Regions from separate parts of the Homo sapiens genome. Here regions 2, 3, 4, 5 and 6 are each reported to be linked to region 1. Evidence: microRNA targets listed by miRTarBase, many of them from high-throughput screens and not tested one by one. Region 1 holds a microRNA gene; each other region holds the end of a gene's coding sequence. Distances are between the middles of the regions.
Evidence for each region. The annotated mature microRNA hsa-miR-526b-3p reads GAAAGUGCUUCCUUUUAGAGGC and lies in region 1 at 2,257-2,278, opposite strand. An mRNA with a match to its seed (bases 2 to 7 or 8) in the 3' UTR can be bound and repressed. Matches are read on the target gene's strand: a 7mer-m8 pairs with bases 2 to 8, a 7mer-A1 pairs with bases 2 to 7 and ends in A, and an 8mer does both.

Region 2: miRTarBase lists PDRG1 as a target of hsa-miR-526b-3p. Seed matches in the 3' UTR shown: 7mer-m8 at 1,853-1,859.
Region 3: the mRNA of DNAJB13 is a reported target of hsa-miR-526b-3p. The part of its 3' UTR that is shown has no 7-base or 8-base seed match.
Region 4: miRTarBase lists TRIP10 as a target of hsa-miR-526b-3p. Seed matches in the 3' UTR shown: 8mer at 546-553.
Region 5: miRTarBase lists AKAP11 as a target of hsa-miR-526b-3p. Seed matches in the 3' UTR shown: 7mer-m8 at 2,753-2,759.
Region 6: miRTarBase lists RUNX3 as a target of hsa-miR-526b-3p. Seed matches in the 3' UTR shown: 8mer at 1,733-1,740 and 7mer-m8 at 408-414.

What each region holds. Positions count from the first base shown.
Region 1 is chr19:53,693,600-53,696,720 of GRCh38, reverse strand. MIR526B (microRNA 526b) reads right to left here and starts at 2,328; the gene lies at 2,246-2,328. MIR519B (microRNA 519b) reads right to left here and starts at 1,508; the gene lies at 1,428-1,508. LOC107985342 (a long non-coding RNA gene) reads right to left here. Exons shown (of 3, transcript XR_007067332.1): 3 at 2,099-2,692.
Region 2 is chr20:31,943,394-31,946,393 of GRCh38, forward strand. It overlaps PDRG1 (p53 and DNA damage regulated 1), which reads right to left. Exons shown (of 5, transcript NM_030815.3): 5 at 944-2,496. The coding sequence ends at 2,414. It overlaps TTLL9 (tubulin tyrosine ligase like 9), which reads left to right. Exons shown (of 15, transcript NM_001008409.5): 15 at 1-1,607. Among named protein-coding and RNA genes, the nearest start is that of PDRG1, 7.2 kb to the right of the region's middle.
Region 3 is chr11:73,969,748-73,972,868 of GRCh38, reverse strand. It overlaps DNAJB13 (DnaJ heat shock protein family (Hsp40) member B13), which reads right to left. Exons shown (of 8, transcript NM_153614.4): 8 at 2,588-2,908. The coding sequence ends at 2,755. Among named protein-coding and RNA genes, the nearest start is that of UCP2, 12 kb to the left of the region's middle. RefSeq lists an enhancer at 2,424-2,583.
Region 4 is chr19:6,750,738-6,753,858 of GRCh38, forward strand. It overlaps TRIP10 (thyroid hormone receptor interactor 10), which reads left to right. Exons shown (of 15, transcript NM_001288962.2): 15 at 326-793. The coding sequence ends at 474. SH2D3A (SH2 domain containing 3A) reads right to left here. Exons shown (of 10, transcript NM_005490.3): 9 at 2,719-2,904; 10 at 1,423-2,016. The coding sequence ends at 1,856. Among named protein-coding and RNA genes, the nearest start is that of TRIP10, 13 kb to the left of the region's middle. RefSeq lists silencers at 2,663-2,842, 3,013-3,121.
Region 5 is chr13:42,318,903-42,322,023 of GRCh38, forward strand. It overlaps AKAP11 (A-kinase anchoring protein 11), which reads left to right. Exons shown (of 13, transcript NM_016248.4): 13 at 186-3,121. The coding sequence ends at 326. Among named protein-coding and RNA genes, the nearest start is that of AKAP11, 48 kb to the left of the region's middle.
Region 6 is chr1:24,899,633-24,902,753 of GRCh38, forward strand. RUNX3 (RUNX family transcription factor 3) reads right to left here. Exons shown (of 5, transcript NM_004350.3): 5 at 1-3,034. The coding sequence ends at 2,490. Among named protein-coding and RNA genes, the nearest start is that of MIR6731, 18 kb to the right of the region's middle. RefSeq lists enhancers at 949-998, 1,766-2,215, 2,546-2,615, 2,696-2,765.

The DNA of each region.
Region 1 (3,121 bases):
CTTTGACAGCACACACAAATGAATGGGGTGACAGAGATTTCCATAGCCCCCGCACATAGGTGACACCCAAATTCATAATGGGTCCCATATTCAAAATTAGGAAAAAAGGCTGAGTGCAGTGGCTCATACCTGTAATCCCAGCACTTCGGGAGGCCTACGTCGGCAAATCACCTGAGGTCAGGATTCAAGAATGGCCTGGCTAACATGGTGAAACTGTGTCTAAAATACATATATATATATAGCTGGTATGGGGGTACATGTCTGCAATCCCAGCTACTTGGAAGGCTGAGGTTGCAGTGAGCTGAGATCACACCACTGCAGTCCAGCCTGGGAGACACAGAGAGGCTCTTTCTCCAAAAAAAAAAAAAAGAGAATTGCTTGAGTCCAGGAGGCAGAGGTTGCAGTGAGCCAAGATCACACTAATGTACTCCATCTCGGGTGACAGAGCAAGACTGTCTCAAATAGTCAAAGACAGAAAAAAAGAACAGGTCTCGCTCTCTTCTTGATTGTGTATGGGCTCACTTAAGGTCAGGAGTTGGAGACTGGGCTGGCCAACATGTTGAAACCCTGTCTCTACAAAAAAAAAAAAAACGAACAAACAAAAAAAACACAAAAATTAGCCGGGCGTGGTGGTGTGCGCCTGTGATCCCAGCTACTCGGGAGGATGAGGCAGGAGAATTGCTTGAACGTGGGATTGTGCCACTGACCTCCAGCCTGATGGACGGAGTAAGACTCTGTTTCAAAAATCGATGAGTAAATAAATAAATAATAAAAATACAAAAATTAGCTGGGTATGGTGGCTCATGTCTGCGATCTCAGCTACTAGGGAGGCTGACTCAGGAGAGAATGGCTTGAATCTGGGAGGTGGAGGGTACAGGGAGCGAAGTTCCTGCCACTGCACTCCAGCCTGGGTCACAGAGCAAGACTCCATCTCAAAAAAGAGGACCGCTGGGCACAATGGCCCACGCCTGTAATCCCAGCACTTTGGGAGGCTGAGGTGGGTGGATCTTGAGGTCAGTAGTTTGAGACCAGCCTGGCCAACGTGGTGAAACCCTGTCTCTACTAAAAATACAAAAATTAGCTGGAAGTGGTGGCAGGCACCTGTAGTCCCAGCTACTTGGGAGGCTGGGGCAGAAGAATTGCTTGAACTCAGGAGGTGAGCTTGCACACAAGATCGCGCCATTGCACTCTCGTCTGGGTCACAGAGCAAGACTCCGCCTCAAAAAAAAAAAAAAAAAAAAGAGGACCGTTTGAGCCTAAAAGATCTACGTTGGAAGTGCTACCCTACTCCAGCCTGGGCAAGAGAGACTCTGTCTTAGAAAAAAAAACAAAATAAAAACAGAATCCCACCATCATCCAAGTCTGATGATAAGCATGCTCTGCAAATGTATTACCAAGATCAGCATCAACTTCACTGTTGCTTTCCTCAAACAGTAAACCTCTAAAAGGATGCACTTTCTTTTCTTTCAGACAACAGAAAGCGCTTCCCTCTAGAGGGTCACAGCATGGGATCTTCTTGCTCCAGCACCCTGGGTTTTTTGTAGAAATTTTCCTTGACCAGGTTAAAATAGAGACAAAAATAAAGACCTATTTATTGGCTCTGTTTGCATGTTTTCTGGAATCCAGAACATAGACCCCTAAAAAGACCATCTCCCGTTCCTTCCTACAAAGGCTCAGCAGGTTAGCCTTGTTCATCAAGGGGAAATCCTCCTGAGTTTTGTGTCCAGAAAGAAAAAGCAATGCCTACTATGCATACCTTATATTTAACCAAGAGAATTGGGCTGGATTTCTAGAGAACAGCAGTGGATTTTCAGCCAAGTGTTCACTTGATTTCCAGCACAGGGACACACAGTCCTGATTAGAGCAGTCAAAATGGAATCTACCATGTTGAAGAATATACATTGTTGCACACACAAACATCCTCCAGGATAGACTACAAGGGAGGCCTTAAAAGCTCCTAAAGAAACCCTGTCTCTACTAAAAATACAAAATTAGCCAGGCATGGTGGCGCAGTCCTATAATCCCAGCTACTTGGGAGGCTGAGGCAGAAGAATCACTTGAACCCGGGAGGCGGAGGTTGTGGTGAGCCAAGATTGTGCCACTGCACTTCAGCCTGGGCAACAGAGACCCAGTCTTAGATAAAAAAACAAAAGAAAAACAAAACCCCAACATCATCCAAGTCTGATTATAAGCGTGCTCTGCAAAGATATTACAAAGATCAGCATCAACTACAACGTTGCTTTTCTCAGACAGTAAGCCTCTAAAAGGAAGCACTTTCTCTTCTTTCAGACAACAGAAAGTGCTTCCCTCAAGAGGGTCACAGCCTGACATCTTCTTGCTCTGATGCCGTGGATTTTTTCCTGGAATTTTCTTTGACCAAGTTAAAATAGACACAAAAATAAAGATGCATTTATTGACCCTGTATGCATGTTTTATGGAATCCAGAATATAAAACTCTATAAGGACCATCTCCAGTTCCTTGCTTCAAAGAATCAGCAGGTTAGCCTTGTTCATCAAGGGGCAATCCTCCTGAGTTTTGTCCCCAAAGAGAAAAAGCAATGCCTACTACACGTACCTTTAACCGAGAAAATTGGGCAGGATTTCTGGAGAACAGCAATGGATTTTAAGCCAAGTGTTCACTCGAGTTCCAGTACAGGACCCACAGTCACGAAGGGAGCATCCAAAATGGAGTCTACGATGTTGAAGAATATACACTGTCATATGCACAAACACTCTCCAGAGTAGATCACAGGCTAGGATGTAAAAACTACTCAATAAAATTTGAGCAGAAATACACAAGTACAAGTGGGGCCCAGTGGCTCAGACCTCTAACTCCTCGAACTTTAGGAGGCCCAGGCAGGAGGATCACCTGCCTCAGGAGCTCGAGACCAGCCCCGGCAACATGGCGAGACCCCATGTGTACAAAAATTACAGAAGTTAGCCAGGTGTGGTGGTGCATGCCTGTAGAGACTAATTCAGCAGGCTTAGGTGGGAGGTGGAGGTTGCAGTAAGCCGAGATTGCACCACCACACTCCATCTTGGGTGACAGAGGCAGATATTGTCTCAGAAAAGAACCACACACACACGCACACACACGCACACGCACACACACCCTAGGTGA
Region 2 (3,000 bases), not on the chromosome of region 1:
ATACTGTTGGCTGCAGCCAAGTCCTCCTGGCTTTGACACTTGGATACCTCCCAAGTCAGTGCTGAAAAGGTCCTTCAGGAGCAAGAGTTTGGAGGCTAAGGAACTCGTCTTTAAGCTGTGCTTACACAGCAAGCAGTTATTAGATTGTGTGTTTATTGGGGGCCTGGGGAAGTACTGAGCCCTAAACACATCCTCTTCTCCTTGCATGTCAGGGGAGCCCATGGGGCTCCCTGACCATCATCTGAAAACCAGTGGGACAGGGCATCCCCATTTCTCAGATGGACAAGACAGACCAGGGAGGCAGAGCTTAGTGAGGGTCTCTGCAAAGGTGCATTTATCTAAGTCAGATGGGTGACTTAAGTGCTTCTCTAGGCCTTGTGTTTGAGATTGGGAGCTGAGCCAGAAACCGGAAAACCCTGGGCTCATGGGCAGGACAGCTTCGGGAGTTGAGTGTGAGTAAAAATCTGCCTTTTCACATCTTACATTGCTAAGCTTCCTCTTGGTTTAAGAGGGGTTGCAACAAGACTCGGGGCTGTTGGGGTAACTGTTCCAGGGGGGACTTACTCCCTCTACCACTCCGCCTGCTTCAGAGTAGTTTCTCTGGCTGCAAATGGTTGAATCTGCCTGCCTAGGTCAAGCCCGAAGGGAAGACTTTTGGAAGGAAAATACTGGCAAATCCAAGAAGTGAACCAGCCGACTTTAGGAAAGCCAGAAGCCAGGCTACTCTAGACCTTCTGCCTTCAGAGCATGAGGACTTCTCCCACTCATCCCTGTACCTGAGGCACACCAACCCAGACAGGTCCAGGCATGGACTCCAGGTTCCCTATTTCCAGAAGGAATGCGATTAGCTTTTTTTGGCCCAGCACCCACCCTGCCAGGGAGGAAGGGGCAATTTTCCAGTGATGAAATTGTGAATCAGGCAGTCACACTGGACAACATCTAGCAAGGTGAATTCTGCAACTCCCTACTTTATTTACATTTTAAAATAAGCAATATATTCATACGGTTTAAAATCCAAAGTTTACAAAAGGGTATAGGGTGACATCTCCTTCCCTCCCACCTGTGCGCCCCAACCCTGCAGGTGCTGTTCTGAGGGAATCACACTGTGCTTGCACAAAAATTATTAGCTTATAAGACACCAGCCTTCCCCTTGCTTTCCTCACTTGATGTATCTTGGAGCTTGTTCCTTATTCTTGATTATAGTTGTATGGTATTGCACTATCTGGAGCTAACACCTGTGACCCACACTCATGTTTTAAAAGTTTCTGCATTAGTCAAAAATATTTAAAAGGAGATTCAACTTCACAACCCATATGTCTAGCTTCTCTTGAAAACACGTAAGAACTGGCCATGACAGCCTGTGTTTCTATGTAACTATGAGCCAGAGCCAAGGAGCGGGGGGACCAGGAGAGGTGTGCCCCTGCCATGCTGCCATTTGTTATCACCCGCCTGTCAAATCACAGGTTTATTTCAAGGCAAGAACCATGTTCATAGGTTGTATTCTAAATGGAGTGGCGTGCCCTTACTGAAGGACTAGATGAGGCAAATAAAGACTAGTTGCTGCTATTCATTCATTCAGCTAACATTTATTGAGCCCTTAATGAACACATAAGAGTTTTGACTTCACGGCAGTTCATACTGGGACCTCAGACCACTGAAGGCAGACAGTAACGAGCAGTGCTGGCCGGGCCCCACTTTCAGAGGGGGCGGAAGGGCATCTTGACACGTGTCATATGGTAAGAGGCGCATCCACTCACCCAGGCCTGGTGCAGGACTCTGCAAGGCCCTCCTGAGTAAAGAGTGGCCACGAAGGGCTGCTAGGCAGCACCTACTCTTGGAATCAAGCAGGGAAAAAGTGCAAAATTGGAGCTGGCGGGAGGTGTGTGTGCCTGCCCCACAGATGGCTGTGGTGAGCCACAAAGCACCAAGATTCTGTTCTTCATTCAGCAACCACCCATGAGCCTCCTGCTTTATTCCAATCGCATGGCACCAGCCTGAAAACCTCTCTCCCTTCTGAGAGGAATGCTGGAATGACACTCCACTCTGCCCCTCCCTCCCTCCTTCCTTGCTCAGGGTCCATGTGAACAGCAGGCCATTGTTGGGAAGTGCCTGTTGCAGTCATTCTTACACCCCCACAGCCACTGCCCCACACACCCACTGGTGGCTACCAAGGCCCGTCAATAGATCTTGTGTCCACCGAGCCCTGGTGTCCAGGTCCAGCAGCCAGACAGGCTGAAGGTTCCCTCCTGCCATCACAGAGTAGCCAAGCACTACAAAGAGGTTTTCATGGCCAGATTCCTGACGGCTGGCCCCTTACAGGGCAGATCCTGTCCTTACAGGTGTCAAGGTTGGAGGGTCCTGGGTCCTCCATGACCCTGGGGGGTTGCTGGTCCCCCATCTTGGTTCTTGAGTCTCATCCTTTCAAGATGACCTTGAGAGCTTTAAGCTCATCCTGGTTGAGGGGGTTCAAGTTAAAACCCTTCAGCTCCGGTTTGCCTAGGAGAGAAGATGATCCATCAGCACGTCGGGCCTCCTGCTGGCTCTGGAGCCAGGCCCAGGAAAGGGGCTGACGCTGCACTAATGCTGCCAAACTCAGCCTGGAGGTCTGGCAGGGATGGGCCTCCAATTCTGCAATGCACCAGATGAGGCATCACCACTGCTCCTGTGTCACCAAGAGCCTGCAAACGCGTAACTCTGCTGCCCAAAGAACCTCAGGTTTTTCCAAGACCTGTGACCAATCTAGAGTGCTTGCATTTATCAAGAATTTCAGCTCTGACCTCACTCACTCACTGAAGCCTTCTGAGTTTCCTCAGTCAGAGCTATCTGATCCCCATGCCATGCCCCGATGTATAACGTGAGATCACCCCAAGCGGTTCCTGGGACCTGGAAAAGAAACTATGACAGGACTAGGACTGTAGAAGTCCCCCTGTCCATTCTGTCCCTGGGCAGCTACAACCAACCACTGTGCACACCTCCAGGGCCACTCACAGGCTGCCCCGG
Region 3 (3,121 bases), not on the chromosome of region 1:
GAGCAAGTCAGCTGGTTCATTCAGCAGCCTTAATAGACACGAGGCTACCCAACTTCACTGTGGTTCTGGGTGTGGCCTTAGGACAATGAGCTGGGAACAGTGGTAGGAACCACTGGAAAACATACCAGTGGGTCTCATTCATTCTGATCACAGGTAGATCACTTCTCTTTGGTTCCCAACCCTTTAATGCCTATTAAGTGGGCAGATGATAAGCCCTGCTTTGCCTAATTCAAGGTAACACTGAAGATCACTAAGGTAATAGGAATCTCCTAAGGGACTTTCAGGCCCAAGACCCAGGCTTCCTTCAAGATAAGGAGTAGGCTTTCCTGCTGCCCTACAGGAGACCTAGAGTTGAAGAATTTCACAGCCCTGCCTCTGCACTCCAATTCAGGGCTTGCCCTCAGAACAGGGCAGCTCTCACCATCCCACTCCACCTGAGTCCTGCCCCAGAGCATTTCATGCCTCACCATCTGGTTTCCATGAAAGGCCTGCAAGGTAGGGGCTGTAAGCTTTAAGAAACGGGTTCAGAGAGGTGAAGTGATTTGCCCAAAGGCACACAGCTGGCTAGTAGCACACTGGGGATCCAGAACAGGTGTGTCTGACTCCAAAGCCCACATGCTTTTAACTACTATGCTGAAATGCTTCCTGGAGCCCTGGTCCCAGAGTCTTCACCTCAAGGTCTTTGGGTAGCTGACTTCATGGTGATTTTTTTTTTAATTTTAAGATGGCGTCTCTTCTGTCGTGCAGGCTGGAGTGCAGTGGCAAGATCTCAGCTCACTGCAACCTCTGCCTCCTGGGTTCAAGTGATTCTCCTGCCTCAGCCTGCCAAGTAGCTGGGATTACAAGTGCATGCCACCATGCCCGGCTAATTTTTGTATTTTTAGTAGAGACAAAGTTTCACCATGTTGCCCAGGCTGGTCTTGAACTCCTGACCTTGTGATCCACCCGCCTCGGCCTCCCAAAGTGCTGGGATTACAGGCATGAGCCACCGCGCCCAGCCCATGGTGATTTTTTTAATGACAAAAGTGCTACTGAACCCCCGTTTTAAAAAAAAAACCTTAAGCTGATGTGATTTGAATGGTGGAGTCCCAAGCAATCTGGAGAACATGGGGCCTTTTCTGGCACCTCTGAAGGCATTCCATGGAATTGGCTACCTACTCCCCGTAAGCCTGGATCTATCCTCACCCAAGCTCAGACTCTAGAAGGGAACCTCCCTGGCATGGAAGGGGAGCATAACACACGTGTTGACTATGAGGAGGCAAGTGTGGTCTACGCAGGCCCAGTTGGACCTGGATGCTGGAACTCCAGGCCTTGAGGGCAGCAGTGCTGTTACCCCTTCCTGAATCTAAGCAGTGAGTTCACCAAGCACTTTCACATCAATGTTCTCTGTCCTCACAACATGCCCGTGAGGGGGGTTATGGGCTCTGCTTTACTGACAAGACAGGTGTGGTGACTGGTCCCAGGAGAAAGTGGCAGGGCTGGGGTCAGAACTCAGGTTTCCTGCCTCCCAGATCACCCTGCCCAGGACCCTATCACAGACCAGGGGATTGAGGCCAGAGAGGTAGAACCAAAGCTGTTTCCAGTGCACATGTGTTCTTTATGCTGCTTCTCTACGCAGGGCGAGTCTGTGGGAAGTGACCTTCAAGGTTTTTGGGGGTTTTTTTTGTTTTTTGTTTGAGACAGAGTCTTGCTCTGTCACCCAGGCTGGAGTGCAGTGGCGCAGTCTCGGCTCACTGCAACCTCCACCTCCTGGATTCAAGTGATTCGCCTGCCTCAGCCTGCCGAGTAGCTGGGATTACAGGCCCTCGCCACCATGCCCAGCTAATTTTTGTATTTTTAGTAGAAACGGGTTTTCACCATGTTGGCCAGGCTAGTCTTGAACTCCTGACCTCAGGTGATCCACCTGCCTCGGCCTCCCAAAGTGCTGGGATTACAAGCATAAGCCACCACACCCGGCCTTTCTAGTTTTTTTGAGATGGAATTTCACTTTCGCCCAGGCTGGAGTGCAGTGGTGCAATCTCAGCTCACTGTAACTCTGCCTCCCAGGTTCAAGCAATTCTCCTGCCTCAACCTTTGGAGTAGCTGGGATTACAGGTGCCCACCATCACACCTGGCTAATTTTTGTATTTAGTAGAGACGAGGTTTCACTATGTTGGCCATGCTGGTCTCGAACTCCTGACCTCAAGTGATCCGCCCACCTTGGCCTCCCAAAGTCCAGGCATGAGCCACCGCACCCAGCCACCTTCAAGGTTCTGATGACAGCTTTGCCACTGAGGCCTGAGTGACCTGCAATGAATGTTTTCTTTTGTGCTTTAGTTTTCCTGTCTCTAACGTGACCATATCATGCTCCAGAGATTGTCTCTTCTGTCATGAAAAGCCAGAGCAGAGCTAGAGACCCTCAGAGGCCACACAGCCCTGCCCCACTCTATCAAAGTGGAAGCACAGAGGATCTGAACCCTTACCTGCCCTTTCCCACAAAGCCAGGACAGGGACTCAGGCACTCAGCTCCTTAGGCCTCTTTCTTCCCTGTGCCCCACAAGAAGGGCTAATATGAAGCTCCTCTCCAATGTACTCTCGTGGGTGTAGCTGGAGGACAGGAAATAGATCTTTATTATGTCAGTTTAAGCCCTGCGCCATCCCACCCTTGTATCATATCTGTGCAGCAGGCTCCCCTGCACACCCTGAGGCTGTGGCGGGTAGGGGTGGGGTGAGGCCCGGCTAGCCTCCTCTCACCCCTGCTCCAGCCCACCACAGTCATGTCAGCAATGCCTGGCGCAGCATCTGCTTCTTCTGGGGTGTGAGGCGGGTGGGGAACTGGATGTCGAAGAAGATGAAGAGATCCCCTTTCTTAGTGGGGTCCTCCGGCAATGGCATCCCCTCCCCTGGCACCTTCTTGAAGTATTTGGGGCTGAAATAGGATGAAAGAAAGGAGCATAGAGGGCATCCCAGAGCAGCACCTCAGCAGGTCCCTGTCATATAACCCCTACTCACATAACCCCAGGAAGGGGACAGTCACTGCAGTCTTCACCTGGAGTGGTTCTTAGCCAGAACTGGTTGGGAAAGGAGCTCCCTGAAAACCTGTTTACACTGAGTCTCTGATGGAGGATTCCAGAAACTTTGT
Region 4 (3,121 bases), 47 Mb from region 1:
GTAATCCCAGCACTTTGGGAAGCTGAGGCAGGCAGATCACTTGAGGTCAAGAATTCCATACCAGCCTGGCGAACACGGTGAAACCCCATCTCTACTGAAAGTACAAAAATTAGCCAGGTGTGGTGGCGCACGCCTGTGATCCCAGCTACTCGGGAGGCTGAGGCAGGAGAATCCCTTGAACCTGGAGGCAGAGGTTGCAGGGAGCCAAGATCCGTGCCACTGCACTCCAGCCTGGGCGAGAGCGAGGCTCTGTCTCAAAAATAAAAAATAAAAATAATAAATTTTGCCTAAAGCAGATCTGGGCCCACCCCCACCCCCATCACAGGGTCCAGCGAGGGCACTATCTCTATGGCCGAGGGTGAAGACCTCAGTCTTATGGAAGAAGACAAAGGGGACGGCTGGACCCGGGTCAGGCGGAAAGAGGGAGGCGAGGGCTACGTGCCCACCTCCTACCTCCGAGTCACGCTCAATTGAACCCTGCCAGAGACGGGAAGAGGGGGGCTGTCGGCTGCTGCTTCTGGGCCACGGGGAGCCCCAGGACCTATGCACTTTATTTCTGACCCCGTGGCTTCGGCTGAGACCTGTGTAACCTGCTGCCCCCTCCACCCCCAACCCAGTCCTACCTGTCACACCGGACGGACCCGCTGTGCCTTCTACCATCGTTCCACCATTGATGTACATACTCATGTTTTACATCTTTTCTTTCTGCCGCTCGGCTCCGGCCATTTTGTTTTATACAAAAATGGGAAAAAAAAAAAAGAAATTATATAAAGTTCCTAGAGTCGGTGTCTTATTAGAGGATTTAAATACTGGGACTGGAAGTATCTAACACCACGTTTCTTACAGGCCACACAGGGAATGAGGAAGGGGAGGTGATCTTGGGCACACCTTGGGTCAACCCTGCCCCTTTCTGGAAGTTGGCCTATGTCATTGTCAGTGGGTGTCTGCTTGTGACTCAGGTAGGGAGAAGGATACCAAGTTTCTTTTTTTTTTCTTTTTGAGACAGTCTCACCCAGTTGCCCAGGCTGGAGTGCAGTGGCGTACGTGATCTCAGCTCACTGCAGACTCCATCTCCCGAGTTCAAGCAATTCTGCCTCAGCCTCCCAAGTAGCTGGGATTACAGGCACACACCATCATGCCCAGCTAATTTTTGTATTTTTTGTAGAGACAGGGTTTTGCCATGTTGGCCAGGCTGGTCTTGAACTCCTGACCTCAAGTGATCCATCTGCCTCGGCCTCCTAAAGTGCTGGGATTATGGCGTGAGCCACCGCACCTGGCCAGGACACCCAAGTTTCATCCCTTCTGAATGCACTGCAGCTTCTGAGAATGGGTAGCACTTATTGAAGACCTACTGTGTGCCAGGCATTCTCCACCTGGGGTCTCATTCCTGGCCACAATTCTTAGAAAGTACACAGCCTCAACTTTTACATTTTTTAAAAGTTTTTTATTTTTCAGTTTTTGTAGAGATGAGGTCTCACCATGTTGCCCTGGCTGGTCTTGAACTCCTGGCCTCAAGCCTTCCTTCCGCCTCGGCCTCCCAAAGTGCTGAGATTACAGGCCTGAGCTGCTGTATGGCTATGATTTTGTTAAAGGCCGACACAGAGGTGAAGTCAACTGCTAGAAATCACGGCTTTTAAGAGGTGGAGTCACATTTGAACTCTGGCCTCTGATGCCAGATCTGCAGGTCACATGTTCACCATGGTCCAGGTGACCCTGACTGCGGTCCCCACCTCTTCTGTGAGGCACAGGGCAGGATTCCACCTGAGGCGCGAGGAGCCTGGGACGACTCCTTTGGTCTCTTCTGGGGTTCGCAAAAACCTGGGGGTCCCGGGTGTGAAGAAGGGTGTCTGCGCTCTCAGCGGTCAGGCTCCAGGCGCTGCGACAGGACGCCGAGGACGCGCTGGAACTTCTCAAAGCGTTCAGCGCGCGGAGCTCCCGCGCCCCGGCTACCCCAGAGCAGCCTCCGCACGAAGCCGGTGGTCAGGGCCTCCCTCAGCTCCGGGTTAGGCCGGAATCCTGGAAGCAAGGTCAGGTGGGCTGGGGGCGGGGCCCAGGCGCCCGCCTCGCCCCTCCCAACCTCCCGGCACCTTCCTTTCCCCAGAGGACTTTGACCCAACAGGGGCCCGGGAGGGACCTGCCCCACCTGCGGGATGACTAGGCGGGGTCAGAGGGGAGGGGGCTTCCAGCTCTCTGCAGGAATGGGGGTGGGGTGCCTGAGGGGCTCTACCGCAGTGCAATGGGGTGGCCTGTTCCAGGTGCCAGATCCTGGAGGTCCCGCCTTAGGGGCTGTGCCTGGACGTGGGGCTGCCCCGAGGACGGGATCCCAGGTTGTCGGGGAAGGTGGGGGGATCTTGCCGGGTGGGCTGCCCTAGGATAGGACGGAGGAGTCGTTTTGGAGGGAGCAGGGCGTTCTTGGGGATCGAGATCCCTGGGGGACGGGATCGTCTTAGGTGGGAAGGGGGAGTGGGGACCCGCGGAGGTGGCTCTGGGGGCAGGACAGCCCGTTTTGAGGTGGACGGCCCTGTTCCTATCAATACCGCTGGATGCAGCGTTTGCTTGGGGTGAGAACCTTCCTGGAGTGGAGCCGTCCCAGTTTGGGTGGGGCTCCGGGAGGCGTGGCGAGAGGCTCCCCTCCTGGGACAGGCTGGGTTTGGGGGATCCGGTTAGAACCTGCAGGGTGCTCTGAAGTCTGCAGTCCAGCGCAGAGGGAACGCTCACCTCGCAGGCGCTGGGCTGCCACCTTGCGGAATTTGGGTGCGTCCCGGACCATGTGACGCGCCCCGTGCAGGGTGCGCAACAGCCGCTCACAGCTCTCGTCCAGCGGCCCCGCGACTTCCTCGCCCTCCAGTAGGCGAACCATGGGTGCCACGTGCGGCAGCGCCACCTCGCCGGGGTCGCAGGGTCCTGCGGAGGGGGAGGGTCTGATCAGGGTTTGGGGCTGTAGATGGGGCATAGGGCAGAGGTGGAACCTAGGACAAATGCAGGGGCGGGGCTTAGGACTGAGCGACAGCGGGGTCTGTGGAGAGGGGCCAGGACCACACGCCCCGTATGGAGGGCGGGGCCTATGGCGAAGGGGCGTAGCCTAGGGAAAGGGGCTGGGACCAAGGCTGGTGGGGGCGTG
Region 5 (3,121 bases), not on the chromosome of region 1:
AAGGGAAAATGTTTAATTTGGGTAAAGGGGTAGCGGTTTAGAGGGGAAGACCTTGTTATAACTAGGAAACGGTATTTAATTGTAAACAGCAGGATTCTTAAGTTTCAGCTAATATTGAAAATAAAAATAAAAGCTTTGTTATAAAATTGTTTTTGGTTAATGTTTGACACATCTTTCTTTCTTAGCTTTCAAAACAATTACAAGAGAAAGGATGGAAAGTGGGAGACCTCCTGCAGGCTGTGCTTCAATACTATGAAGTGATGGAAAAAGCTTCCAGTGAGGAGAGATGCAAGTCGCTGTTTGATTGGCTCTTGGAAAATGCATAGAGCAAACCCCAAACCAGTATATTTTAGTATTTGTTTGGGGAGGGGAACAAGCCAATAAAGATGTTTAGGATAAAATTTGAATAGTGAATATTAACATCGTAAGTCAGTTGGGAGGCAAGTAAATATAGCTTTCTGAGCGCTTTGTGTTATCACTCGGTGTATATAGTTCATACTTTTGTAATCTGTCAAAATACTACCTTCATTTATTCTTCTATACACATGTGTAGTGTGTCAAGACCCTAAGAACATGTATTTGAAGGAAGGTCTAACCAGGGGGTTTTCAGGGGCATTGTCTGACCACATTCTTTTTGTATCCAAATAGTGCTGCTAGAAACTGCACTGAAGTGGCTGAGGATAGGTTCCAGTGATAGAGTTATAATTTTGCTCCTTTGCAAACAAATGGTATCTAATTAATAACTAGTCTGACATCAGAAAATAAAATTGAGGCTGATTTTTAAAAATTTCTAGTAGATTTTTGGCCTTTCCTGTTTTTAAAAATCAGTTTCATTTTCATATTTCATAGATCAGCTATTGGTAGCTTTTTGATTTCCCCAAACTATTTAATTTCTTAGCAGAAACATTAGTATTTTAGGTTTCTATAAACACTATAAGTGATAGTTTCCCCCATCCTTTCATTGACATTATTTGCCAATGCTGCCAGTCATTCTGGCATGAAAGGTGTGTGTGTGTGTGTGTGTGTGTGTGTGTGTGTGTGTGTGTGTAAGGGAGTACTTTAACCTTGCCAGTTTGTTCCCTCTTTTATTTTACTGTTTTCTTTTTAGAAACCCACTGTTAAAATTTAAAAAGGTGCTTTAAAATAAAACGCCTATAAAGATTGTGCAGTAAGAATTTTTATTGACAATAATTAAAATTTTTTTTGACAATTTTGGGTTCCCAACTTATCTTACAAGTGAAAACTTAAATTGTAAAACATGTTGAAATTTTAAAAATTAATGTTAATATGGAAATGCATTTAGAGAAGCCCAGTAGTTTTTATTGTTGGATTTTTGAAAAAACCTCTACCAAGAATGTGGTGTTTTTTTTGTTTGTTTGTTTGTTTGTTTTAGAAAAATTGGGATTTCCCCCCACCCCGCCCCACCCAGATAAACTATATCTACACTGTCTCGTCAAGTTCTCTGACACGATCTTTCTGGGCTCTACATTTCCTACTAGTTTGTGTCCAGAAACTGCAAGTTGACATGAATAGAGGACAAAGGTTGTGTCTTGCTTTTGTCTCTCTCTTCCCTCCCTGCAACTCTCTCTCCCCTCCTCCCACTCTCTTCCCCCTCCCCCCTCCTCCCACTGTCTCTCACCTCCCCCACCCCCCACTCTCTCTCATCTCTCGCTGTGTCCTGTGTATGTGTGGGTGTGTGTGTATTTGGGTGTGTAAATGTTGGTTCTTCCACTACTGGATTTTGTAATCTAGGATAAATCACTTTTTTTGGGGACTTTGATTTTGCTCCATTACGTTTTCATTTTTTCTGAGCACTGACTGTTCTGAAAGCTGCACAAAACGTAGAAAGAAGACATAGCGCCTGCCAGGGAATAGGAAATGAGGGCACTTACACATTAATGTGAATTAGTAATTGTGGTATAGAAATGTTTTATAGTGAAAGATTCAAATTTGCTTTTCAAGAAAAATGCCAAAAGCTATTTAAATAATTCGAGGTTACATCGTAGGTTTTGATTTTTCTCAATTTAAGATACAGAAATACAGCAAGCCTTAATATAAAGTTTCCTAAAGTTTCTTCAAGTATTTTTTAAGGTGGAGAAATGCAGGAATTGTATAACCAGAATTGTTCCTGCCTTTAGCTTTTCAGAACTTGAGATGTGGCAGCACTGGACTGGGTTTTTTTAAATGTTAGGACTAGGAATGTTTGCTCTTGTTAATTATGAATTAATTGATTATTAAGTTTAGAATGCATTTTTACAAGTATCTAACTATCAAATTGTGTTTAGTAACTTGAGTGTATGCACAAGTTTGATCAACAGCAAAATAGAGTTCTGAATTTCTTTTAAAGTGATGATATATTATTTTGTGAAACTTTGTGTTTGAAAATGTTTATTTCTGTTTATGGTGTAATCATTCTGAGGTGAGGCTTTTCTTATTTCCTTTGCATTTTGCTAGAGCTGTGCTGAGTTCAGCATTTGCTTATTTAACCACTACATAATGACAGACCAGTTATTAGGTATTAGCATGTGTGGTAATAATAATAGTGGAACTTCACACTTACATCAATTCAGTGCAGGGGCATAGAATAAAATATTAAATATTGGCAGATGTATGAAAAGAAGTGTGAGTTAAAAATATTGAATATTGGCAGGTGTGAAAACAAGTGTCAAAATTCCTCATATAGAGAAAATAATTTTGAGTTTAGAGTATTATCTTTTAATTAAGTGTAGTCTAAACTTAACTTTCTGTAAAGGCACTTTGTGGTTTTTCCAAAGATGTTCTAGATCTATTTGGTTGCTCTATAGTCAAACAGCTCTTTTGAAGACAACTGTCTTATTTTATTACAAATTGGCTTGACATATTTATACTGTAACATTGTAATATTGCTGTGCTGTACATTTTGGCCCTTACGAAATACGTCTTTTTCAGAACTGTTAAAGTTTTGATGTACATCGAGCTGAATTCTGTTTTTACCAGTTTCAAAACCTTCAAGTGATATGTGGAAAAAAGTGAATGAGACCTCTGATAGGGGGTTTTCAGAACCTTGTTCACACCAAAATGTGACAGTTCTTTCATGTTTTCCTAAACCAAGTTAAAATTACATGTATATTTTGGTGTTAAG
Region 6 (3,121 bases), not on the chromosome of region 1:
GCAAACGATAGTGCAAAGCAGTTTCCACCCAGCTCCATCCTCTCGCCAGCTCTGGGATGGTTTTACATCAGATGAGTGCAGCAGGTGTCACACCTCAGCATGACAATATGTCACAAAAGATTGGTACCCACTACTGACAGGCTCACAGTAACACTATATCAAAACGTCTTCCTTTCCTCGTGCTTCCTACATCAGTGTGTTTGCCTAGTACAACTTTAACGCAGCCTTGTAAATAAGGACCTACTTTTACCAGCCCAGGCTGTCTGTACCCACTTTGGGCCTTACAGACTCAGTACGGCTGCCGTCACTTTTTGTCAGGGGATGGGGGATGGGGTAGGAAGAGCAATTTATTTACTATCCCTGCCTCTCCAGGATCAGGAAGGGTTAGTAATCTGGGATGAGACTACAAAGTGCTGGGCACTGGGAACCCAAAGGTGCCTCCCACGCTGACCTGGGACCAGCTATAACCAGAGAACAGGAGGGAAGAAACTACAAGGACAATGGATTCATAGCTGCTTCCTAAGAAGGCATGGAGAGGCCCCTTGGGTGCAGGGAGTCAGCAACTATTTTGAGGAGATGGAGACTGTTTTTCCAGTGAGGACAGGCCAAGAGAAACCGCAGCAGGAGGGAATGGAATAGGATCACCAGAAGGACTGCCTAACCTGCCAGTGTGTCTCTGGTGTATGGTTCTGGCCGTTGTGACAGGTTGGGTGGGGACAGTGCTCTCACAGAGACAACCAATGAAGAGCATTTTGTAGGGCAGATTTCTGCATCCACAGAGGCCGAGGCAGAAAGTTAAAATACCGCATGCTGCTAGCCTTTATGAGTTCCCTTACGCCTTTTCTAAGCCTTTCTAGGGCCAGAGAACTCTGATGTGAGAATCCATGCAGCCTGGCCCTTGGGCAAGCGCCCACTTTCCCATTTTGCAAAATTCAGGGGCAAGACTTCACCTCGGAACGCAGTGCAGCTGAGCTGCGGCTGGAGAGCCCTTTACAGTGCTTCTGTCCTGCCACGCACAGCCAGTACTCCCCACCTCTCACATCCTGCCCACCTCCGCCCAGCCTCCTGGACAGATGTCCTAGAGCCACAGAGGAGAGATGCCCAGCGTCTCATCAGCGTTTCCCTCGTCCTCCCAGGGGAGCCTGTGGTGCAGGCTGGTGGGATGCTGCCTGATGGGGAGTGTAGCCCCTTGAGAAAGTATTGAGACCCTAATAACCCCACACCCTCAGGAGGCAGCTGGGGGTCCGCGGGGGGGAGAGGGGGCGGGGATGTTGCTTATAATCACAGAGCTATCATAATCACGGAACTATACCTGTAAGAGACCTTGTGTTTGAAAACGTTAGATTAAGCTTCTTTTTCTAAAATCAGTTTTAAAAACTGTTTTGTTTTTTTTTTGTTTTTTTGTTTTTTTTTTTTTTTTGCTCAGGACTATTTGCTTTCAGAGCACAAAACAGGTTACAGACAGGTGTGTGCCAGGAGTCGCAAGATTTGGCTGGATCCTCCCAGGAGGCTTGGGGGATGGGGCACAGCTTGGCTGGACCCAGGGGGGACAGGGACATTGATGTCTGACCCAAAATGATCCCTCACCTCAATGCCTTCTGCTAGGACCTATCTATCTGGCCCTCCTGTTCTCTCCACAAATGGAATTATGAGACCACCTAGGGGAAAGGGGACCTCCTATCCCCCCTCCCCCGCCCTGCCAAGAGAACAGAGAGTGGATGCGTTGAGCTGGTAAAGTGCATGGAGGAGCCGGTCTGTAGGTGCTTTCCTGGGTTTAAGAACCTGATGCCATAGACTCATCTTCTCTGGGGCCTGGGACCCGTGCGGCTGGGGGAAAGCCAACAGTTAGGAACGGAGGGGAAGCTGGGCTGGGGGGACTGGCTTGGATGTGTTCTCAAACCATCTCTGCCAGCAGCGTGCTGGGTCCTGCCCCATCTGTACAATGAGGGGAACCCCGCTCGAGGGTGGTGGGGGTGGGGGACACTTTCCAGTTCTGACTCAAATCTGTGTAAATGCAGAGGGGGCTGGACCCAGGGGATGCAGGGGCTCCAACGAAGGTGCAGGGGTCGGGAGGTTTCCCAGGGCCTGAGGCTTATCCTGTGGGCCAATGCTGCCTCTCTCTGGAAGAGAGATGGCCTCTGTCCCAGGAGACATGGGTCCCATGCAGCACTGGGCATAGCTGGAGACAGTGAGGTCCTTCCGGGGGGGTGGCAGGAGGCTGATTCCCCACAGAAGTATGGGATGAGACGGCCAGGATCTGGGCCGGGGGCAGTATCCCGGGCCGGGGTGGGGGTGGTAACCTATGCCTCTGTACAAGGATGTGGCTGCACAGATGCAGCCAGAGGCTCCCACCAGCTGGGACCACCCTGGGACCGAGACCACCCTGGAGCGCAGGTCCCATTCCCGCCCGGAGCCTCGGAGCCGGCCCATCACTGGTCTTGAAGGTTGTTAGGGTCCCCGCCTCCAGCGGGAGGAGTCCACCAGGGCGGTCAGTAGGGCCGCCACACGGCCTCATCCATGCGGCCTGGCGTGCTCAGGGCCGTGGGTGAGTTGCTGTGGCTGCCGTCGGCCTCCACGCCATCACTCTGGCCGCCCAGGCTGGGGTTCATGAGGTTGCCGGCGGCGACAGAGGCAGCGCTGCTGGTGCAAGAGGCCAGCATGCGGGTAGGTGAGCGGTCGCCCCCACTGCTGCTGCCGGCCACCATGGAGAACTGGTAGGAGCCAGAGGATGTCCCGTAGTAGAGGTGGTAGGGGGACGGGTTGGCCTGGAAGGGCCCGCTCTGGTTCTGCGGGGCCCCCGGGTAGGGTGGCGGGAGGTAGGTATGGTGGAAGCGGCTGGTGGCCGGCATGCCCGCCACGCTGAGGCTGCTGATGCTCGTGCCCGAGGGCGTGGCGCTGTAGGGGAAGGCAGCTGACATGGCCCCGGGATAATGCATCCTGGGGTCTGGGAAGCGGCTCTCCGTGAGGGTTGGCAGCGTGGGGAAGGAGCGGTCAAACTGGCGGGGGTCGGAGAATGGGTTCAGTTCCGAGGTGCCTGGAGGACAGCAGGGAAGAGGTCAGTTCCAGCTCGAGACAACCCCAGGAGGGCTTCCTGAAGAATGACCTTGGGCTCTGGTTCCCA